Homo sapiens: one gene and its partner. The protein of the gene in region 1 purifies or fractionates together with the protein of each later gene. This does not show direct contact. Each region holds a gene or a part of one and is shown on either strand. Other genes may lie near its edges. The genes, in order: SEPTIN10 and PSME4.

Region 1 (3,823 bases):
TTTTAGCCAAAGTCTGGAGGCCGTGTAGAGCCTCCCACTTCTCATTATGCCACACACACATTACCCCCGCCCCCACGGTACCCTGTTAGTAGGTGGGAAACACCAGTGGGGCACTCTGACCAAAATGTGAATGTGGAAAGTAGTGTTCAGACATAAAACATCACTAATTACCACTTAAGTATAAGAACAGTCAACCATCTTATAAATTTATATATTTTTACTGATCAAAGTATTGCCGGCTATTTCCAGAATAAGCCAGTCAGCCAACTTAAAAAGTTAAATCTACTTGACATTTAGATTATTTAGCTGACATTATAATGAGTAAGTAAATAGTATTATATGGTTCATTTACTTATAGTGCTAATTAATGGTGAATAGATTACCCTTACTAGTATGGATTTCCAAATGCTGATTTTTTTTCTTAATTGATAAATTTTGTAATGAATGAAAAAATTGAGAAAATATAACATTTTTAATTTTATAAAAAATGTAAAAGTAATAATTATACTTAAGAGTATTGGTCACAATAAAATATATTTATTTGTAGTCCTCTGGTCACCGTAAACATAGAAGAAGGATCATGTAAGTGTGTTCACTAATTTTGAATAGTGTCTAACACAGGATCATAAATGTGTTCTATAAAAAGAATTTGATAATTATAGCAGGGAAGGATAGTATTCTTGAGTTTGCAGAATTTACTACTTTGAAGTTTTAGTGAACTAATATTACATACTCTTTAAACATTATGTGAAATGTCTTCAGGATAGTTTGTAAACTGCTAACAAAATATTAGTGTGAAATAACTAGAACACTTGGTTAACAATAAGTTGTGTCTTTTTTGGTATTTCCTGGTGATTCATTGGCTACTAAATTTAAAGTAAATCTGGTCTGTTAATTCACATTGCCTATGATACAGTATTTATACTGCAAGAGTTTCTTCCTTGGTTACATGTATAAAATAATCGTAGCTGTTAATCAAACTGATCATTTGCTATTTGTTGTTTCACATGTTTTCATTTATTTGTTCATTCAGCAAACACTTAGTTGTGTGCCAGGAATTAAAATCCAGTGTTGTTCTTTTCTTATTTTTTTTTGGCTAGTGGAAAATGAAAACCACTGTGACTTTGTAAAGCTGCGGGAAATGCTCATTTGTACAAATATGGAGGACCTGCGAGAGCAGACCCATACCAGGCACTATGAGCTTTACAGGCGCTGCAAACTGGAGGAAATGGGCTTTACAGATGTGGGCCCAGAAAACAAGCCAGTCAGGTAGGGTGGGGTTCTTGGGAAGCCAACCAAAGAGGAAGTTAGAGAGGATTGCATATTTTTATATATCCAGGATGATGGGGCATGTGTTCTTTAGAATCTCCCAAAACCATGATATAGAATCATTTGGTAATGACTAATTATTGTGCTTCTTGAATCACTTGACTCCTTCTTGCTTTTGAAGAGTCTTGCTTTTTAAGTCCTTGTCTGACTCAAAAAGAGTTAAATATGATGAAGAATGTATGGCAGAGGCCCCCTGTTTCAGTTCATGCTGACATGAGTAACTGAAGGAAAATACCCTCATTATTTGATTTCTTTTTGTATTTATCTGAGACGATGATATATTTAACTGTTGTCATAAAGGTAAGTTGGAACACAAATCATTTTCTTAGTTTTATTTATTTATTTTTTGTAGAGACAGGGTCTTACTATGTTGCCCAGGCTGGTCTCAAACTCCTGGCCTCAAGTGATCCTCCTACCTCAGCCTCGCAAAGCTTTGGGATTACAAATGTGAGCCTCCATACCAGTCCTCAGGAATCATTTAAAATAAACTAAAACATTTTCTGTTGGTTTTTCTTCTGTAAAGGTTTTGGAATGAGTGAAGCTTAGCAAAACATATTATAAAGGAAGAAGGAGAGTGCTTGTAGGGAGTTGGAGATTAGATTGTTTCTTGCCATATTACAGTGTAGTTATAAGAATTTTAGAATCTGAACCCTTCCTTGCTCAGTAATATAAAGCATTAAAAGTTGTAGAAACTTCCTTGGTAATTTTATATGGTGCTGTATCCCAGACTTTATGCAACTCAAATCCTTAGTGTACTGAATCAGATCAATTTGATGTAGCATTCCAGAACAGTGTTTGCATGCAGGAAAGCGTGAGATCCTTGGGACAAGTGCTATTTTAAACTCTCTTATGAGACTGAGGATTCCTTTTCCATTGCATTGTTTGCATTTGTTATTTCTCTGGTTCTTAGCACCTGCACCAGAGTAAACAAAAGAAAGGGGGAGGAGTGCATCAAATTAGTGCCGCTGTTGCATATAAGCTTTTGGAAGACTTAATCTTAGATGAAGTTAAATTTTTAAATTTCTTCAGTCTATGGAGTTAATTAATGTTTTCACTTCTGGTAGCATAATGAATTAAGAATTGTATATACTTATGGCCGGGTGTGGTGGTTCATGGCCTGTAATCCCAGCACTTTGGGAGGCCAAGGCGGGCAGACCACTTGAGGTTAGGAGTTCAAGACCAGCCTGGCCAACATGGTGAAACCCCGTCTTTACTAAAATTACACAAATTAGCTGGGTATGGTGGCACACTTCTGTAAAACCAGCTACTCAGGAGGCTGAGGTAGGAGAATCACTTGAACCTGGGAGGCAGAGTTTACAGTGAGCTGAGATCGTGCCACTGCACTCCAACCTGGGCAACAGAGCGAGACTCCATCTCAAAGAAAAAAAAAAAAAGCATTGTGTGTACTTAACCCACCCTCACCAAATTCAGGCATAGGATGCTTCTGGTTGTGGGCCAGTCATTCTCGTAAACTGACAATTTTCTCATGATATTGTCTTCACTAAAGATTAATCATCTCGAGTTAGCTTCCCTAGTGTTTCTCAGAGGAGACTCACTTCTCATTTCTTCCAAGTCTCAGGGTCACTTCAGAGGCCTCTGTGCACTGAGGTGGAAGGGGTCCTGAGTAAGAGCGGGCAGGGACAACTTTGAAGTCCTCTCTGAGGAGACAGGCCTAGGTGTCTGGTGGAGTCATCATCAGTCACCTGTGGATGATTAAGAAATGCAGGGTCAGAATTTCCAGGGATGAAGCCTAGAAATCTGCAGTCAGAATTCTTAGTCATTCAGCAAATAGTTTGTCTGCTATCTGCTCAGCCAAATGCTAGTCATTGGGTGTATGTGCACTGTTGGATCAAATAGAGACCCTGCTTGTGTAGAGTCTCTGTTGAGGGGTGGGAGGAGGACCCCTATGTGAAGAAGAGAGTTGGGGGAGGGGGGCAGGTGGAAGTGGGGAGACCAAGTTAGGAGGTTGCCATGGTGGTCCAGGCATGAGAAGATGGAGGCGTGAAAGAGAGGGGTAGTGACAGAGGGGTGAGAAGCATGCTTAAGACATGTATTTTTTTAAATTTAATTTTATTATTATTATTATTATTTTTGAGATAGAGTCTCACTGTGTTGCCCAGGCTGGAGTTCAGTGGCATGATCTCTGCTCACTGCAACCTCTGCCTCCTGGGTTCAAGCGATTCTCATGCCTCAGCCTCCTGAGTAGCTGGGACTATAGGCATGCACCACCACCCCCAGCTAATTTTTGTGTTTTTGTAGTAGAGACAGGGTTTCACCATGTTGGCCAGGCTGGTCTTGAATTCCTGGCCTTGGGGTCAGGAATTCCTGGCCTTGAATTCCTGGGGTCTTGAAACCCCATCTCTACTAAAAATACAAAGTGATCTGCCTGCCTTGGGCTCCTGAAGTGATGGGATTACAGTGATGGATCACACCTGGCTAAGGATATGTAATTTGAAATTAAAGTCCATAGGACCCACTGATAAATTATTTTTGC
Region 2 (3,823 bases), about 56 Mb from region 1:
GTGTTGGGAAAGAAAGGAAATGCTAACTGCTGAATCTGCATTGTCTGGTATGAGGCACCTAAGAGTATCTAATGTTTGAGTATTGAAATTGAAGTACACAATAAATGCAAGTGGTTTTATTTGTAAATGAATCTTGAAATCTTGACAAGTTACCAAACTCATCAGTGAGAACCAGTTAGAGAGAGTGATAGAAGAGGTTTTACTTTGTTGTTAAGTGATCATTCAAAATGGGAACCAAAATTTCTTTGTAGTGAGAAAGTTGATTTTCCATAAGGGGAAAAAAAAGGAACTGATTTTGGAGAACATGAATTTCTTTGATAAAGTTGTATAATGTAATAGCACAATAAGACATATTTCATATTTGATTTTTTCAAAAATTTTATTTCTGAGAGCAATTTTAGGTTCACAGCAAAATTGAATGGAAAGTATAGAGTTCCTGTATACCCTCTGTCTCTACACATGCATACATTTGATTTTTCATGATGATGTCACACATATACTTTTTTTTCAAAAATATTTGAGGCCCTTACTGTTTTCCAGAGATCTCTCAGTAATTTCTTGAAAACAGCTTGTCGTTTTCTTTTCACTAGTTAATTGGCTATTTCTTCCTGAACATCACTGGCCAATGAGCATATGTGTGTTTCTGATTTGAAGTTTTCTAATATTTAAACTCTTTTCATTACATATTTTTTATTATGAAAAATATCAAATATTCAAAAGACAATATAATGAACCTCATCACCTATCTTCACTTAATTAACTCATGGCCAGTTATGTTCTTTTCATCATCCCCTTTCCCCATTGTTTTTGAAGTATATTATTTATTCATGAATGTTTCCAGTATATATCTTCAAAGGAAAAGGAATTTTTTAAAAAAAGCAATACCAATACTATTATAAAACCTAAAAAAATTAACATCTATTATCACTTTGATCAATCTCATAAGGTTCTGCTTCTTTGCCAAATTTGTGATTTTACTTCTGAGTTTCCATTTCATTTGCATTTTTTTGCCTAAGGTTTACTGTAATCAAATCTCATGGACAGAGATCAAGAAAATAGCTCATTAATGAACATTTTCACATTATGACATCTTTCATTTCTGCCTTTTACCTTTGAAGACTTAGACTCAATCCTGGGGTAACAAGTATTCTCTTAAGTTACCTTCATTTAAAAAATGAAGACACAAGAGGCTCATAGGTTAGTGTACAGTCATGGGTTAATACAGTGTAGTAGAGGCAGACATCAATCTTCTTTGAACACAATTTTTTGAGTGCAATGCGTGGGCTGGGCACTGGTTTTGGCGTTTGGGATGTATCAGCGCAAGTTTTCTGCCCTCTGGAAGTTTCAGTGCGCTCTTTCTTTTTTGTGTGTTTTTTTTTGAAGAGATGGTCTTGGTCTCTTACCCAGGCTGGAATCATAGGGAGTGCAATCATACCCCCCTGTTTTAACCTTGAGCTCCTGGCCTCGAGCGATCCTCCCATCTCAGGCTCCTGGTTAGCTTGGACTACAGACATATACCACCACGCCAAGCTAATTTTTAAAGTTTTTCTTGAGACAAAGTCTCACTATGTTGCTCAGGCTGGCCTTGAACTCTTGGGCTCAAGTGATCCTCCACCTTTGCCTCCTGAAAGTGTTGGGAAAGTGTTGGGATTACATGCGTGAGCCACTGCATATGGTATGTGTCCTTTTTTTTTTTTTTTTGACACTGAGTCTCGCTCTGTTACCCAGGCTGGAGTGCAGTGGCGCGATCTCGGCTCACTGCAGCCTCCACTTCCTGGGTTCAAGTGATTTTCCTGTTTCAGCCTCCTGCGTAGCTGGGACTACAGGTGCAGCCACCATGCCTGGCGAATTTTTCTGTTTTTAATAGAGATGGGGTTTCACCTTATTGGCCAGGATGGTCTCGATCTCCAGACCTCATGATCCGCCTGCCTCAGCCTCCCAAAGTGCTGGGATTACAGGCGTGAGCCACCGTGCCCAGCTGTGTGCTTTATTCAGTGCACATTTTTGTTCATTTAGGACAGACTAGGCCAGGTGGTAACTTCATCAAAAACATTGAAGAAAATAGGAATTCTGAATGTATTATTTGAAAAGAAAATCTCATTCTGACCACTGTGTTTTAATGCCTTACTTTGAGGCACTAAGAAAGGCAGTTAGAAAAAAGAAATGTACCGTTTGATGTTCTGAGATCTGAATGTCACTTAAGAATGGTTTTCCCAAGTGTTCTTTCTGCAGTGTTGTAAAATAAAATTGTATTTGAAATACCTGTTGTTAATTGAAGTGGAGGCAAATTTTTACTGTTTTTTTTTTTTTGGCAAGCTTGTAAATAAGCATATAACTATATAACTTCTAAGAACTGTTTTTCTTATGGAACCTGGGAATTAACTTTTTTCTGCTAAATGAGACTTATTTTTAGAGAATCCCTTTCGCCCCTGTAAAAAGTAGAGGTTCCTCTTCAAAGACTTTCCTCCCCATCTAATTAGGAATAAATAGTAACTTCTCTTACAAGCAAAATTTATTCAAAGACCCTTGCAAACATTCTTAAATATCTGCTAGCCATAATGAAGAAATCAATGTACTTTATGTTCTTAGCTCCCACAATTTAGCCTAAATATTTGCCCTGGCATGCTTATACTGGTCCAAGCAAGCATTAGGTCATAGCCTGTTCCTCTTCCTTATTTGAAGGTGTTTTTATCTTTCTCAGCATTCCACAAGTTACTTCCTCCTTCCTTTGTTCTCTGCCTTTGCCTCTTTTAAAAAGTTCTAAGTTGCTAGCCAATCGGGACAAATACAGAATGTGAGGTCCCGTTCTAGCAAGTGGAAACCGGACACAACAGTAGGGTGGACGCTTCGGGTTATAAATGACCCTGTCTCCTTTGTTGGGTGTACTCTCCTGGCAAAACTGCTGGCGAGTGTACCTTTTCTGCAGAAAGTATAAAAATGGCCTTGCTGAGGAAATTAAATTTATGTTGAAGTGCTGTTTCTTTACAGCAATGGGGAATGAGCATTTCAAACATCCCCCTTCCCCCCCTTATTTTTAGACAGTCTTGCTCTGTCGCCCAGGTTGGAGTGCAGTGGCGCTGTCACAGCTCACTGCAAACTCAACCTCCCAGGCTCAAGCGATCTTCCCATCTCAGCCTCTGGAGTAGCTGGGACCACGGGCATGTATCAGCACACCCAGCTAGGTTTTTATTATTTTATTTTTATTTTTGTAGAGACAGGGTCTCACTATGTTGCCACGGCTGGTCGCAAACTCCTGGGCTCAAATCTTCCTGCCTCGCCCTCCCAAAGTGCTGGGATTACAGGCATAAGCCACTGCACCTAGCGCCTCTTCCCTCCTTTTCAAATACAAAAATCCTAATCTATGTTTCTGTCTAACCTTTGTAGAAAATTAGATCAAAATCTCATTCTATATGAACACCAAACTGAGAGCATGGTAGTAAAAACGGTAAGCAAACAACAACAGCAACAGAAAACCTCTACATTCATTGAGACCTCTATTGGAATGTTAAAAGCAGCACATACTATAAATATTCCCATTTGGAACCTTGAGGTTGACTACTTCTGTATTTGGTTTACACTTAACATTTCTTCTCTCTCTTTCTTTGAGACTGAGTCTTGCTCTGTCACCCAGGCTGGAGTGCAATTGTACCATCTTGCCTCACTGCAACCTCTGCCTCCCAGGTTCAAGCGATTCTCCTGCCTCAGCCTCCTGGGTAGCTAGGATTACAGGCATGCGCCACCATGCCCAGCTAGTTTTGTACTTTTAGTAGAGACTGGGTTTCTCCATGTTGGTCAGGCTGGTCTCGAACTCCTCACCTCACGT

Evidence for each region.
Region 2: the proteins of SEPTIN10 (region 1) and PSME4 fractionate together in Homo sapiens (co-fractionation; one large-scale study listed by BioGRID). This does not show direct contact.

What each region holds. Positions count from the first base shown.
Region 1 is NC_000002.12:109,561,812-109,565,634, reverse strand, and holds part of SEPTIN10 (septin-10), read left to right. Parts: intron 1-1,100; coding exon 1,101-1,269; intron 1,270-3,823. UniProt on the Homo sapiens protein: Filament-forming cytoskeletal GTPase. May play a role in cytokinesis.
Region 2 is NC_000002.12:53,960,888-53,964,710, reverse strand, and holds part of PSME4 (proteasome activator complex subunit 4), read left to right. Parts: intron 1-3,823. UniProt on the Homo sapiens protein: Associated component of the proteasome that specifically recognizes acetylated histones and promotes ATP- and ubiquitin-independent degradation of core histones during spermatogenesis and DNA damage response.